Linked DNA regions of Homo sapiens. The protein of the gene in region 4 purifies or fractionates together with the protein of the main gene of each other region. This does not show direct contact. Each region holds a gene or a part of one and is shown on either strand. Other genes may lie near its edges.

The links.
Region 1: the proteins of CD40 (region 4) and NBEAL2 purify together in Homo sapiens (co-immunoprecipitation; 2 studies listed by BioGRID and IntAct, with this or other methods). This does not show direct contact.
Region 2: the proteins of CD40 (region 4) and IPO11 purify together in Homo sapiens (co-immunoprecipitation; 2 studies listed by BioGRID and IntAct, with this or other methods). This does not show direct contact.
Region 3: the proteins of CD40 (region 4) and XPO5 purify together in Homo sapiens (co-immunoprecipitation; 2 studies listed by BioGRID and IntAct, with this or other methods). This does not show direct contact.

The regions. Positions count from the first base shown.
Region 1 is NC_000003.12:46,985,970-46,989,826, reverse strand, and holds part of NBEAL2 (neurobeachin-like protein 2), read right to left. Parts: intron 1,838-3,857; exon of another isoform or gene 1,780-1,837; coding exon of another isoform or gene 1,750-1,779; intron 1,466-1,749; exon of another isoform or gene 1,382-1,465; intron 1,159-1,381; coding exon 1,070-1,158; intron 986-1,069; coding exon 857-985; intron 743-856; coding exon 661-742; intron 568-660; coding exon 446-567; intron 317-445; coding exon 234-316; intron 159-233; exon of another isoform or gene 1-158. UniProt on the Homo sapiens protein: Probably involved in thrombopoiesis. Plays a role in the development or secretion of alpha-granules, that contain several growth factors important for platelet biogenesis.
Region 2 is NC_000005.10:62,485,567-62,489,423, reverse strand, and holds part of IPO11 (importin-11), read right to left. Parts: intron 1,654-3,857; coding exon 1,563-1,653; intron 123-1,562; coding exon 75-122; intron 1-74. UniProt on the Homo sapiens protein: Functions in nuclear protein import as nuclear transport receptor. Serves as receptor for nuclear localization signals (NLS) in cargo substrates.
Region 3 is NC_000006.12:43,569,378-43,573,234, reverse strand, and holds part of XPO5 (exportin-5), read left to right. Parts: intron 1-656; coding exon 657-729; intron 730-2,240; coding exon 2,241-2,378; intron 2,379-2,550; coding exon 2,551-2,733; intron 2,734-3,857. UniProt on the Homo sapiens protein: Mediates the nuclear export of proteins bearing a double-stranded RNA binding domain (dsRBD) and double-stranded RNAs (cargos). XPO5 in the nucleus binds cooperatively to the RNA and to the GTPase Ran in its active GTP-bound form.
Region 4 is NC_000020.11:46,124,644-46,128,500, forward strand, and holds part of CD40 (tumor necrosis factor receptor superfamily member 5 isoform 1 precursor), read left to right. Parts: intron 1-1,996; coding exon 1,997-2,058; coding exon of another isoform or gene 2,059-2,098; exon of another isoform or gene 2,099-2,518; intron 2,519-3,335; exon of another isoform or gene 3,336-3,494; coding exon 3,495-3,581; coding exon of another isoform or gene 3,582-3,593; intron 3,594-3,686; coding exon 3,687-3,715; intron 3,716-3,857.

The sequences.
Region 1 (3,857 bases), on a different chromosome or scaffold from region 4:
GAGAAATCTGGGTAGGCAGGTTGACCCCACCCCTCCACCTGATGGGAGGCCCTCGCTCCAGCCCAAGATGTCTTCTCTTGTCTCTGTCCCTAAACTCTTGCTTGGTCTTTGGTTCTCCCAGTCCTGCATGCAGCCACCACCAAGTGGTTCCTGTGTATGGCAGGATCAAGGAACGACAGGAAGGGGCCTAGGTTTGGGGGTGGAGCCAAGTGGGGGCAGGGGCGGGGCCTGACCTTGGAAGAAGGCGCTGAATTCCTGGGGCAAAGCAGCAGGAGGGAACTTGTATTTGCTCTTCTCCTTGGAGCTGATGACTTCCCTGGGGGCAGTGAGGCCAAGTACATCAGCCCGGCTCTCACCACTCCTGGCCGTCACCCCTCCTTGGGCCCAGCGCGGCCATCCTCTCCCCACCCTCCTCTGGGTTCCCTTCCTGTGGGCTGGGTCTCACCCACTGCGCTGGCGCCGCCAGGTTTGGTAAGGGTCAAAGAGGCCCTCGCAGAGAAGCAGAGCATGTAGGGCCACATTCTCCAACTGCGTGCCTCGGCCCTGGGGTGGTGGGCATCCTTTCAGCTGTAGGTGTGGGGAGAGAGGGTTAGCCCCGCCATGGCTACCGCCTGCCTCCCTGCATACACCCTCTGCCCCCCAAGGTAGAGGCCACTTCACCTCCGCCACCAACTTGGTCAACAGTGCCAGCACTCGGGGCACTAGCACTTGGCCCCGGCCTGCCTCTATGTTCTCCAGGTTCCTGGGGGAGTCAATGATGAGAGAGGTCACAATAATACACCATGCCCCTCCTTGTCCCCTCTCCCTCTGGCCCACAGTTCTAGGCCCCTGCTTGTAGAGTGGACAACAGAGACACCTGCAGAGAATGATGAAGAGCTTGAGCAGCAGGAGGGCTTGCTCCAGGTCAGCCTGGTGCAGCTGTTCGGCCAGCACATGCAGCTCATCCAGTGGTAGCAGCGGGACCTCTGCACCTGCCTCCTCTGGCCTGCAAGGAAAGGGGAGACACGGGTGCTGAGGACCCCTCAATCTCCCTGCTCTGTCCCTGCCCTCAGTGCAGATCCAGCCTCACCTTCGTGGCTCCAGAGAGGACAGTGAGATGCTCTTCTTGAAGGCACCTACAAAGGCCTTCAGCCACTGCTGCAGGTAACCCAGGTCCTTCTGTAGGCAGAACAGGGGAACAGTGGTGGGGGGCAGGAGGGATGCAGTAAACAGGGCAGGGACAAGGGGATGTAGACAGAGGCGAAGAATGAATGGAGGTGGACAGAGGGCATGGACAAGGGGTTAAAGGCAGAGTGGAGGGTGTGGAGAAGGGGAGTGGGGGACGGGGGAGGGAGGGCAGGACATTGGAAGGTCAGCATCAGAGAGTTAGGTACATACTGACCACTTTTCCAGGCACCCCACTGCTTCTCTCAGCCTCCCAGTTTCTGCTCCCACCTCCCTAATGCCTGCAGTCCTAGGCAGGTCTGACACAGCCAGGGGAGGGGCGTAAGTGGGGTGTGGCTGTGGCCCACACTGGTGCTAGGGCTGGAGAAGGTGTCCCACACAGCAGCCACCCCCTACCAAGAGCCTTGGGCTGGGTCCTCATCTGCCATCTTCACCCAGCCCAGCAGCCACCACCTTCAGTAGCCTTCTTTAACTGTGGATCCCAGGACACACGTGTACCATTAGACAGGCAGACCCAGACATGCGCACATCCTCATGTGCGGCCCTGCCTTGCCCCGGGAACCTCCACCCACCCTTGCTGGTTACCTGGACCCCAGGCCCCAGAGCTGGTTCCATGGGCAAGAGGGGCAGTGGCTAAGCCCAGGTCTAGGCGCTGCCAGGAAAACTTTGGTGTGAACGGGAAATGTCTCCTCCCGCCCCGGGGCTGGGGCAGGAAGCGCAGAGTCACGGTGGGGGAGGGGGACCGCTTCCTCCCGGCAGACCGCAGGGATGTGGGGGGGCCGGGGCACCCTGGGCCCCAGTGAGAGAGGCTGCAAGCGACCTGGCCTGCACAGAGGGTGGGACCTGTTACAGAGGGGTGGAGTCACCTGTCCTGGGTGGGGCTTGTGGGCCAAGACTAGTTTTACAAGCATGAGGTTGGCGCCTGGAAGAGCTCTTATCCAGGTGAGGGTTCTGATCCTGCTGCTGCAGTACCCTTCACTTAAGGCACCCACAGCTCCCTGACCTGCGCGCAAGGCCTCAGGCCACAGGGGTCGATGTAGAAGACTCAGCCATACCTTTGTCCCGCCCCGCCGCCCGCCATGTCCTGGCCACCTCATCTGAACTCTGCAGTTCTCTTCGCTCAGGAACACAGCTGATAAATCCTAGCCTAGCCCGTATCTGCTCTAATCTCTAAGCCCCTCCCAGGGGCCAGGGGTGGGTTGTGGCTTATACAGGAGCTCCTCCAGGCTGGCCCCATATGGAGCTCCTAACCAGCTGAGTCCAAAAGGCAGCCTTCTTTCCTAGAGTCAGAGAGGTGGACAGGGGGAGCTAGAGTGGAAAAGGATGAAGAGGCAAGGGACACATCACAGTCAGCACTCAGCAGGCCTCAGGCTGCTCCCCAGGGGCCATGGGCCTCATACCCAAGGACCTCCAGAACTATCTTTGGATGGATGGCTAATTTTTGCAGCCTATGGGCCCAGACCACGGGCAAGGCCTGAATGGCCCCAGGGCAAGAGGCCTGACTGCAGCAGACCTGAGCCAGATCCCCAAAAAACCTAGGCAGAGCAGCCGTCCACCCTGTGATTGGGGAACTCCCTGGTACAGTTTAGTGCAGATCTGAAGCCCAGACAACTCAGAGAGGTGCCAGGGCCACCATGGTGCAGACCCACACAACCATGACATTTTGTCTGTCAGTTACATTTATTGACCTCTCCACCCTCTCCTGCTGGCAGCCTCCTCCCGAACAATCAGCAAGGAGCCCAAAATACCCAGATCCTGAGACAGCAGAGGTGGCCAGGGGCCCTGGACCATTTCTTCTGAACCTCTCCCATTGCAGATGGGGAAACAGGAGGCCCCACAGGGGATGCCTTATCTACTACTTTGTCTTCAGTGTACCTTTGAGGATGCTAAAAGCCAGACCTTAGTTCTAGGCCAGGACCACTCATGATTGCTAGCAAGCCAGCCCATGAGGACCATGCGGGCCCCGATCCTTGCCTCAGTGGCCCCACAGAGACCCCTAGCTGCCTTCAAAAATGTCCCAATACTGTCTTCCTCTCTTCTGCCCCTCAGTCAAGCTAGTCACTCAAAATGTGAGTCTTCCTGCCAGCTGCAGCTCTACTGAGCACCTGAAAGCCCAAATTTGACCGTGTCTAACCCCTCCCCATAAAGGCTCAACTGCTGAGCAGCATTCCAGGCTGCTGGTCCAACCAGAACCTGCTTCTCCAGCTTCCACCTCTCCCCCTCTGTGGTTCACATCCTCCTATCCAGGCCTTTTCCCACCCTATGCCCCACTGCCTTGTGTGACTTGGGCTTTTGGTACTTGAGCAGGAACCTCCCACCCTCCTGGTGGCCATCACCTTGATCAGCCTTCCCAGCACAGGGGTGGGTCCCTCAATCTCTACATACTCCTAGAGTATGTAGATAGTACTTTCTGTCCCTAGAACCACACCCTTGGCCTGTCCAGTCCTGTAAACTTTCAGCAGATTGGGCTGAGCTGGGTTCAGGGCTGGGACAATCAAGACAGCCTTCAGGGGCTCTGAAAGGGGATGACGAGGTCTCCAAAGCACAGTATTAGGCAGGGGTGGGGTGGCTGCCTGTCCTGCCTCCCTGGGTCTCACTGTTTCTCCCTGGAAGACCTCAGGCCAACTCTGACCTAGGCCCCATGGCTTGAGACTGCAATGTGTCGGGGTACGGGAGTCCCTCAGGGAGCCAGG
Region 2 (3,857 bases), on a different chromosome or scaffold from region 4:
CAAAATCTACCACAAAACAGACTCTCCATCTACTGAATAAATAAATGCTTCTAAATCACTTAAGTTTAACATACCAGCATCTTTGATTAACAGTGCATTCATATCTTCCACATTTGTGGGTCCTAAAAAATATATATATAAATAGGTATCAGTAAAAGCAAATAAAACTAGTTTTTTAAAAAATTTATATTTAAACACAATTTGTTAGTTTCCCAATTCAATTAAGTATAACACATTTCATGGTGTCAAAAATGGACACAAGTACAAAGGGAAAGTCTAAGTTTTATGATTATCATTAGAGAACACAGGATTAAAAACCATTATAGCATATTTGAAAAATGTTATGACAAGCAATATTCTAGAAAATATACACCACAAAATGCTAATGTGCTATATACCACAAAATTATTTTTTTTGAGACAAGGTCTTGCTTTGTCACCCAGGCTGGAGTACAGTGGAGTGAGGTTTTCTCAGTTCACTGCAGCCTCATCCTCCTGCGCTCAAATGATCCTCCAACCTCAGCCTTCTGAATAGCTAGGACTACAGGTACTAACCACCAGGCCCAGCTAATTTTCCTAATTTTTGTAGCGACAGGTTTTTGCCATGTTGTCCAGGCTGGTCTGGGACTCCTGGGCTCAAGTGATCTGCCCACCTCAGCCTCCCAAAGTGCTGGAATTACAGGCGTGAGTCACCATGCCTGGCCAACACTCATTCTGACAACATGCTCTTCTCTAGGATACACCACTACACCTGGCATTTTTACAAGGCTTTTATTTACTCATATCCCTATAGGTGAAAATCTCAGGTTCTGTCCTTAAGATCCTCTTTTCTTTTCCCAAGGCTCCTTACATACATGCACTCCGAAAGTATATCTCTATCTCCTACCACTTCTAATGAGGTAACTGTTTCCTTGTCATTAAGGCTCAAAAGTTTAGGATCATCTTTGATCACTTTTCCTTGCCTAGCACATTCAATCGGTTGCTAAAAGTCAATCAAGTAACAATAGTTACTGAATATGCCCAGCACTGGGAATAAAATATAAACAAAACAGACGTGATCAATGCCCCTAGGACTTACAGTCTAGCAGAAAAGACAGAAATCATAAATCAATGTTAGTTAATAGGCAGATAATTAGTTACTTGTGTACAAAGTGTAATGACCAAGTGTCAAAAATTTACATCATCATTTTCTCTCAAATCCATAATCAATTATTTCCATTCCCACTGCCACCATTCTAAGAGAGGCTAACACTATTTTAACCTTTTCTCACTATTTCTCACAACACGCTCCAGATAGACTTTCTGCAAGCAGTATGACTACTGTTTTGCTTTTGCTTCTATTGTATTTACTACAGGAAAATTTATCATCGTCCAAACTATAATTCAAGGCCTATCTCAAATGCCACCCCCTTGGAAGATAATAAGTTTTAAAATTGTTTTTCTCAAATTCATATTTATTATATGACCCAGGAAACAGTACAGTATGCATTGTAGGCACTCAGACTATTTCTTAACTAAACGTTAAAGAGATTAACTCAAAGTTAATCACAAAATATGCCTTACCTTGAAGTGTTTGCATCATTTCTAGAAGTACAGGAGTAAGAGTCTGATTATATTCATGGAATATATCTATAAATAATACTTCAGTGCATGGCTGGAGAGGGAAAAATACAAATTTCTCATCAAAACAGTTGCATACTATATTGACTAATTCTTTAATAAAGCAAATACTTAATCTTAAAATTCTAAAACTTTGAAAATGTTTCCAACTTTTGATTTGTTAAAAAAAAAAAGTAAGGTTACCATTTTTTTATAACCAACACAAAGGAAAACAAAATCGAATTATAATTAATAAAAGAAAGTTGATTTCATTTCAATTATTTGTCATTACGCATTCAAAAACTTAAAACTATGGCAAGCAAAGTGTACATTTTAAATTAATCATACCTTAAATTTAAAAAGCATTCTGTAGCCACTCATTTATAGCTCAGTACTATAAATGGCTGACTACCCAAGATTCTTTTTTTTTTGAGACACAGTCTCACTCTGTCACCAGGCTGGAGTGCAGTGGTGTGATTTCGGCTCACTGCAACCTCCACCTCCCAGGTTCAAGCGATTCCCCTGCTTCAGCCTCCCGAGTAGCTATTATGTATTTTCTTAGCAATGATATAATAAGCAAAAACAGGAACTCCAATTTGCCAAATAAAGTAGCCTTTCTCTTAACAAACACAAGCGGTAACAGAAATTAGCATTAGCTACATTTAAAAAAATGATTTGTTTGGTTCTTAAAAGTACTGAATCATTTCACATTGCATGCTGGTATCAAAACATCTCATGTACCCCATAAATATGTACACCTACTATGTACCCACAAAAAATTTTTTAAAATAATTTTTTATTTAAATTTTAAAAAGGAATTTAATCACTAGATCGTTCACAATATTTAAATTTTTTAATTAAATTTTTAAGGTATTGTGTGGTGTTTTAAAAGGAACATTATAAATATACACACTGAAATATGGTCAGAGGATGTGTCATCTCAGATAACCATCAACACTGGGAGATGTTTACAGGAAGCTAAAGTAGCCATGAGTTGATAACTAATAAACTAGCTTATCATGAAGGGCTCATTATATTATTCTATTTTTTAATATGTTTAAACTTCTCCATAAAAGAAACTTTTAAAAATTAAAGGAATGAAATTTTTTAAAGTTTTAAAATCACCAGTAATCTCTCTGGTTAACAACTGTATGTTTATGAATCTAAAAACATTAAAGATAACATTTTTAGAAGACAAATAGCTAATTATGTAAATTATGTAAGTGCAAATCTTAAAAAGAAGAGCTCAAACATCACATCTGGTAACGGCAAAACATTTGTCATATTAATAAATGCGTTGTAAAAGTATCCTATAACTGAAAGCAATGGGCTAGTCTCTGAGAATCACATGAAGTGGTAAGAGAAATAACATACCAAAAGAAACTTTACTAATGAAATATATAGAAGGAAAAAATTCTAGCTTAAGAATGGCAGCTTTCAGTTTGACAAACATTTTCTATTTGTGTAATGACAATTATTTCCCAAGCAATGTACTAAAAGATGAAGAAAAAATTTGTTTTCCGACCCCAAGTTAAACAAAAGAAAAGGCCAGGCACAGTGGCTCACGCCTGTAATCCCAGCACTTAGGGAGGCCGAGGCGGGTGGCTCACGAGGTCAGGAGATCGAGACCAACCTGGCTAACAAGATGAAACCCCGTCTCTACTAAATAAACAAAAAATTAGCTGGGCGTGGTGGCGGGCGCCTGTATTCCCAGCTACTCGGGAGGCTGAGGCAGGAGAATGGCATGAACCCAGGGGGCGGAGCTTGCAGTGAGCCGAGATGCACCAGTGCACTCCAGCCTGGGCAACAGAGTGAGATTCTGTCTCAAAAAAAAAAAAAAAGAAAAAGAAAAAAGAAAAAAAACTCAGATTAAACGTCATAATTTAATATGAATATAGTTCTTAGTTTCTTATAAACAGTTTCTTATCTGTCTGACTTAATGTTGGGAATCTTTAATTTTTTTTTTTTTTTTTTTAAGAGACGGGTTTTGCTTTGTAATCCAGGCTAGAACGCAGTGGCATCATCATGGCACACGGCAGCCTCAACCTCCTGGGCTCAAACAATCCTCCTGCCTCAGATTCCTGAAGAGTTGGGACTACAGGTATGCGCCACCACTCTGGTCTAATTTTTTTTTCCTTTTTTTACTTTTTGCAGAGACAGGGTCTCACTATGTTTACCAGGCCGGTCTTGAATTTCTGGCCTCAAGCGATCCTCCCACCTTGGCTTCCCAAAGTGCTAGGATTAAAGTGTGAGCCACCA
Region 3 (3,857 bases), on a different chromosome or scaffold from region 4:
ATTTAGCCAATACTTACTGAGCTCTGACTATATGTCATTAGCCCTCGAAGCCTTTTTAGAGTAATGCAATGTATAGGTCAATGAATCTCTGATTAGGCACTGTGGCTTTCTTTTTTCTCTCTGTCTTTCTGAGTTTGTGTGCCTTCTCTGGGTGGTACATCCAAAGCAGGATTGTATGAGAATAACTGAAAACCCATCCTAACTTGATTGTCCTACCCTCAACACCTATCAGAAGAGGTAGCCTTTAAGACTTAGCCATAGTTTTTCCAGAATTGTTTTGTAAGCCAGCACAGAAAATGACTGATGTCAAAACTGCATTTTCTGAAAAGCAAGTACATTGTTGCAGTTGACCTAGATGTATATTCACTTTTGGCCCATCAATAAAATCATGAGGCAAAGCTGACGTGTGGTACAAATCTTGTGCGGATTCCAGTTAATGGACCACTGCATATATAAAACCTTTTCCCAAGAATTTTTGTGTTAGTATTTTGGTTAAATGTAGATCATTTTTGCCCATTCATTGACAGGTACAAAATCAAAAGTATAATTTCTTAATGAAATCTCCAGTGTAATCAAATGTAGAAATCCATGCTATTCTCTTGTAAAGACAAGACTTCTAAAGTGGTTCTATTGACTTTATGCATTTTGGTGGTCAGGTTTCGGTGGAACGGCATGTCTCGATTGGAGAAGGTGTATCTGAAGAACAGTGTCATGGAGCTGATTGCAAATGTAAGGAATGGGTGGTTGGGAGACATGTTTCCAAGGTAGTTTAGGCAAAGCGTGACTTCTTCAATAGGGAGTTTGTGTAAAAATTCACTGCTTCTAAATAGGTCAGACAGCACAAGAAATCATAATTTAGGCCAGGCACAGTGACTCACACCTGTAATTCTAGCGCTTTGGGAAGCCAAGGTAAGAGGATCACCTGCATCTAAGAATTCGAGAGCAGCTTGGGCAATGCAGTGAGACCCCATCTCTACCAAAAATGCAAAAATTAGCTGAGCGTGGTGGCGCATGCCTGTGGCCCAGCTACTCAGGAGGCTGAGGTGGGAGGATTTTCTGAGCCCAGGAGGTCCAGGCTGCAGTGAGCTGTGATGGTGCCATGGCACTCCAGCCTGTGCAACAGAGCAAGACCCTATCTCAAAAACAAAACAAAACAAAAGCAGAAAGCATAATTCAGCATATGTCTCTTACTAGGTTTAATTAATCATGCTTATGTATTGACTTCTATTTTTTAAATTATAAAGACAGGGCAGAGGGGATTAAATATTTTCAACAAATCAATAAGATTCTTAGATCTAAATTAGATTGAAACACTATTTTCTTTTATTCCAAACAACTACTATGTGATACTAATGATGAAAAACATGCAGAATTTTAAGTATGCAGAATGAATTTGTTTCAAGTATTAGAATATGACTTTTTTTTTTTTTTGAGACAGAGTCTCTGTTGCTCCGGCTGGATTGCATTAGCATGATCATAGCTCACTGCAGCCTCGAACTCCTGGGCTCAAGTGATCTTCTCGCCTTAGCCTCCCAAGTAGCTGGGATTATAGGCATGTGGTACCATGCCCAGCTAATTTTGTTTTTGGTTTTTAGAGAGACAGGGTCTCACTGTGTTTCCCAGGCTAGTCTGGTCTCAAACCCCTGGCCTCAAGCAATCCTCCCACCTTGGCTTTCCAAAATGCTGAGATTACAGGTGTGATGACTGGATGACTGTCTCTTTAAACACAAAACAGAATATGACTTTAAACATGTTCAAAATTGTAGCCTTTTTTCTTTCTTGGTTTTTTTTAAATAACAGACATGAGAGATGGGATCTTCTAATACTTCTGCGTCTTCTAGTGTTAGAACTATTGGTAAAATATTCATTTGCCCCTTCATACCCTTCCATTTTACCAGCTACTCACTATACTCCTTATTTCTATACTCTTCCTCCCTGGCCTTCTGCAAACTGAAACAATCAATATGAGAATCTTTTCATTTTGTAAAGAATAATGATGTCATCCTAGCTCTCGATATGACAGCCTTTTAGGTGATGCAACCCTCACTTAAGCTTTAAGCGGAAGAGTGATTAGCAAGAATGCAGGACAAGTGACTCAGGCTGAAGAACAGGTTCATTTGTTCTGTTTGGTTTAAAAGTAGGCCTGCTGATAAATTTTTTACAACTCTACAGCCCAGCTTTTTTCTGGAAGTCTGGAATCCAGTCTTGCATATCTCTTAATATCTCTTGTTCTTTTTCAGGGAACATTGAACATTTTGGAAGAGGAGAACCATATTAAAGATGCTCTGTCTCGAATTGTAGTGGAAATGATCAAGCGAGAGTGGCCACAGCATTGGCCTGACATGCTAATAGAATTGGACACTCTTTCCAAACAAGGGGTATGAAACACAGCTATATCAGTTTGGTATACTTTTCCTTGGAACAAACTTCAGGGTTTGTTGTTTGATTTTGTTTGTGGGTTTTTTTTTTTGGCAACAGAAAATAGCCTTTGGATATACATAAAATGAAAAGATATTTTAGTTTTTAACTAGCTTATTTCTATTGGTGTAGGAAACACAGACAGAATTGGTGATGTTTATCCTTTTGCGACTGGCAGAGGATGTAGTGACTTTTCAGACACTTCCCCCTCAAAGAAGAAGGGACATCCAGCAAACATTAACCCAGAACATGGAAAGGATCTTCAGTTTTCTGCTTAACACACTTCAAGAAAATGTAAACAAGTATCAGCAAGTGGTAAGGGATACCCCTACCTATAACATTTCTATTTTCCAATATGAGTGTTTTTGATTAATCTTACAGTAAGGAACTAGGGTGTCTAGGTCAGCAAAATGAAATCCTATTTTATAAGCAAAAAAATAAAAAACTAGGAAATGACAGAAAAACTGGAGCTCATTTTCTTTCTTTTTTTTTTTTTTTTTTTTTTGAGACGGAGGCTCGCTCTGTCACCTAGGCTGGAGTGCAGTGGTGTGATCCCGGCTCACTGCAACCTCTGCCTCCCAGGTTCAAGCGATTCTCCTGCCTCAACCTCCCAAGTAGCTGGGACTACAGGCGCCCGCCACCAGGCCCGGCTGATTTTTTGTATTTCTAGTAGAGACGGGGTTTCACTATGTTAGCCAGGAAGGTCTTGATCTCCTGACCTCATGATCCGCCCGCCTCCCAAAGTGCTGGGATTATAGGTGTGAGCCACGGCACCTGGCCTTTTTTAAAAAAAAAAAAAAAAAAAAAAAAAAAGATAGGGATCTCGGCTTACTGCAGCCTCCACCTCCTGGGATTACAGGCATGTGCCACCACACCTGGCTAATTTTTGTATTTTTAGTAGAGATGGAGTTTCGCTGTGTTAGCAAGGCTAGTCTCAAACTCCTGACCTCAGGTGGTCTACCCACCTTGCTCTCCCAAAGTGCTGAGATTATAGGTGTGAGCCACCGAGCCCAGCCCTAGGTGTTATTCTTAATTTTATTTTCAGAAGTTCTTTAGGAAAATACTAATTTTTTTTTTTTTTTTGGAGAGGGAGTCTCACTCTGTCACCCATGCTGGAGTGCAGTGGCACAATCTCGGCTCACTGCAACCTCCGCCTCCTGGGTTCAAGCGATTCTCCTGCCTCAGCCTCCCGGGTAGCTGAGATTACCGGTGCCTGCCACCATGCCCGTCTAATTTTTGTATTTTAGTAGAGATGGTGTTTCACCATGTTGGTCAGGCTGGTCTTGAACTCCTGACCTCAAATAATCCGCCTGCCTTGGTCTTCCAAAGTGCTGGGATGGTAGGCGTGAGCCACCGCGCCTGGCCTAATTTTGTATGCTTGTAAGTTAACATTATGTGCCTTTGTATGGATTTGAAATATAAGGATAAAAATCAACCAT
Region 4 (3,857 bases):
TCTTCCATTGATACATCCCCTATACCTGGAACAGTACCTGACGCATGGTAGGTGCTTAAATTTTTACTGATAAATGTTGACTGATAACTGGAGGCACCACTGGTATAGTTTTTTTTTTTTTTTTTTTTTTTTTTTTTTTTTGAGACAGAGTCTCACTCTGTCGCCCAGGCTGGAGTGCAGTGGCGCAATCTCGGCTCACTGCAAGCTCTGCCTCCCAGGTTCACGCCATTCTCCTGCCTCAGCCTCCTGAGTAGCTGGGACTATAGGCGCCCGCCACCACACCCGGCTAATTTTTTTGTATTTTTAGTAGAGACGGCGTTTCACCGTGTTAGCCAGGATGGTCTTGATCTCCTGACCTCGTGATCCGTCTGCCTTGGCCTCCCAAAGTGCTGGGATTACAGGCGTGAGCCACCGTGCCCGGCCACCAGTGGTATAGTATTAATGGAATCAGTGCATTGGCTTACGTATCTGATTACAGCTCAGTAAGTGTGTGACCCTCACTGAGCCTCAGTCTCCTCATCTGAAAAATGGGAATGACCTTCATTTCACAAGGCTTGAGCTAAAAACATGTAAAGTGTATTGTAAATTCCTGAATGCTCTACTCATGTAAGACTAAAGTAGGCCGGGCGTGGTGGCTCACACCTGTAATTGCAGCACTTTGGGAGGCCGAGGAGGGCAGATCATGAGGTCAAGAGATCGAGACCATCCTGGCTAATATGGTAAAACCCTGTCTCTACTAAAAATACAAAAATTAGCTGGGCGTGGTGGCGCACATCTGTAGTCCCAGCTACTCAGGAGGCGGAGGCAGGAGAATTGCTTGAACCTGGGAGGTGGAGGTTGCAGTGAGCTGAGATCGCGCCACTGCATTCCAGCCAGTCTGGCGAAAGAGCAAGACTCTGTCTCAAAAAAAAAAAAAAAAAAAAAAAAAGACTAAAGTACATGGTTTCTTCAAAGCTTCTCTCTCTTTCTCCCACCTTAGATGATTTTTCCTTTGCAATGTCCTGTGTCCATTCCGCCCCACTCCTCCTGGGGCCACCTGGACCAGGTCTTCATCATCTCATATCTATATGTTTGCTGTGTCTCCTGGCTGGCCACTCTTCTGTAATTTCTCCTCCTCTGAGCTCTCTGGGCAGCTGAATCTTCTCACTAGTGAAGTCGCCTGGTTGGATGCTGATGAGACTGACCAGCTGAATCCAGTTGAAAACTTCACACTTGGCAGTGATCTGGTTCTAAAGACACAATTTTCCATAGTTTCCTAACACCATCCTGCATGCCACCTGCCTTATTTCCCCACATCACATCGTCCCACTTAGCGGGACTGCACTGCTGATCCAAATTTTACATCCTTTAGGGCCCACTCAGGTCATATGTCCTCAGGGAAGTCTTTCTGGAAGAACCTTAAACCAGAGGTTCTCAACAGGGGGCAGTTTTGCTCCCTGTGGAACGTTTGCCAATGTCTGGACACATTTCATTCGTCACAAACGGAGAGGGGGATGCTACAGGGATCTGGCGGATAGAGGCCAGGGATGCTGCTGAACATCTGCAATGCATAGGACAGCCCACCCCCACCCCCACACCCCCAGTAAATAATGATCCAGCCCAAGTGTCACTGGTGCTGACGTTGAGTAACCCTATCTTAAGCTGAACTCATCATCTCTCCATTCCAGCCTTGGTGGATTCTGTCTCCTCTGAACCATTCCCATCTCACTTTAGCCTACCTAGATCACAAAGCTTGGCACTCATTATAGACTCCCCTATTTATTACTCCTTCAAGATGTGCAAGAATCTTTTCTCTGCACTTTTAAGTTCTGTAAGAAGAGTCTGTGTCGTTCCTATAATAACCAGCATAGGACGTTGCACGTGTTGTGTGCTCAGTGAACCTGGATTTGTTGATTGTTGACTGACTCACTCTAGAGTTGGAAATCTTATGCTTGGGGAAACTTAATATCTCTTTCTTTCTCTGTGTGTGTGCATTTGTGCACGTGTCTGTGCATAGCTGTGAGACCAAAGACCTGGTTGTGCAACAGGCAGGCACAAACAAGACTGATGTTGTCTGTGGTGAGTCCTGGACAATGGGCCCTGGAGAAAGCCTAGGAAGGTGGGAACTGAAGGGGGAGATGAGGCACACAGGAACACTGGATGGGAAAAAGGGGAGGGGAGGCAGTTTGGGGGTGTGGTATCACAGCTCTGCCACTTATCTTGGGAGTCTGGGCAAATCACTTCCCCTCTCTTAGCCTCAGTTTCTTCATCTGTAAAATGGGATGATAACAGCACTTCCTTAGTAGGTTTTGATTTTAGAGTGAGAAGGTTGGCCTACAGTAAAGATCAGATAATGTAAATCAGTGAAAAAGGTCAGGGGTAAGAAAATTACATTCTCTTTACCTAACGCTAAATGACCAGTTAATGGGTGCAGCACACCAACATGGTACATGTATACATATGTAACAAACCTGCACATTATGCACATGTACCCTAAAGCTTAAAGTATAATAATAATAAAATTTAAAAAAACGAAAAATACATTCTCTTTGCTTTTTCTCAAAATGTACTTTCCTCTTTGTAGGGCTGGGACTAGAATGAGGTGAGCAAGGCACTTGCCCTCGGGCGCAATATTTAAGAAGGTGCCATAAAAGTGTAGTAATCAAGGTAAATTCATTTTGATGCAATATTTTTAAAAATAAAAATTAATGCAAAGAAATCCATGATGAGCAAGATAGCAACATTTTAAATAAAGAACAGGATCCGACCCTGTGTTTGCATGACCCTGCCTCACTCACCTCACCCTAATCCTGGCCCTGGTTCCAGTAAAAGGAATAGGCAGCCAGCCTGCAGGCCGTAGTTTGCTGACTTGGTGTCCGCCTGATGATTTTCAAAATATGGCATTAAAAGAATGTTTACCTTGATGACTGAGTGTTTTGGACATCCTTTTCAATTTTGTCCTGAAACAATTTCATCCCTTGCCTCACGCTAGTCTCCGCCCTGCCTTTTGGTCTTTCTTTTATTTTCCCACTTTGAAAAAAAAATTCGGCATGAGAAATACTTTACCTTTCCCCTCCACTCTTCTATACCAAAAGCAACATGCAGACATGAATCATGCTAGACCTCGGCATTGGGCAGAGAGCAGGGAGTGGCGGGGAGCATGGTGAGCAGGTGGTGACAGCCACTGCCACCACTCGCTTCTAGATGGTTCCCAGGTGGGGAGGCTGCCAACTGGAACCCAGTCTTCCCAGTTTGTAAGAGAAATCAGATGTCTAGGTTTGAATATGTGATCTCCCAGTTTAAAAATGTCGGCAAATATTTCCAAACGTTAAGAAAATGTTCTGGCTCCTTTAAAGACATCTGCCAGCCACATTTCCCCAAGGACCGCGGTTTGAACCTTCTGATGTAGATGAGCTCTGACATTGGAAGATTCTGGAGTCTGACAAGTCACAGCAGGTTGAGGGTAGGGAGAAACTGCAGGTGAGGGGTGCATGCTGAAGTCCTGATTTCTCCAGGTCCCCAGGATCGGCTGAGAGCCCTGGTGGTGATCCCCATCATCTTCGGGATCCTGTTTGCCATCCTCTTGGTGCTGGTCTTTATCAGTGAGTCCTCAGGTGGGGAGGTGTTGGGGGAGGGAGGGGAGACCACCTGTTTCTTATCTGGCCTCTCCAACTCCCCATCCTTTTTTTTTTTTTTTTTTTTTTTAGAAAAGGTGGCCAAGAAGCCAACCAATAAGGTAGGTCACCCCTGAGAACCCGGGACAGAGTTTTGACAAACTGGGAAGATGGCCTCACGGTTGCCTATGGGGCAGTAAAACTGATTCAGAGTCTGTCTCTGCAGCCAGTGGGGTGGCAGCAGAATTGGGGACTGTCATCCCC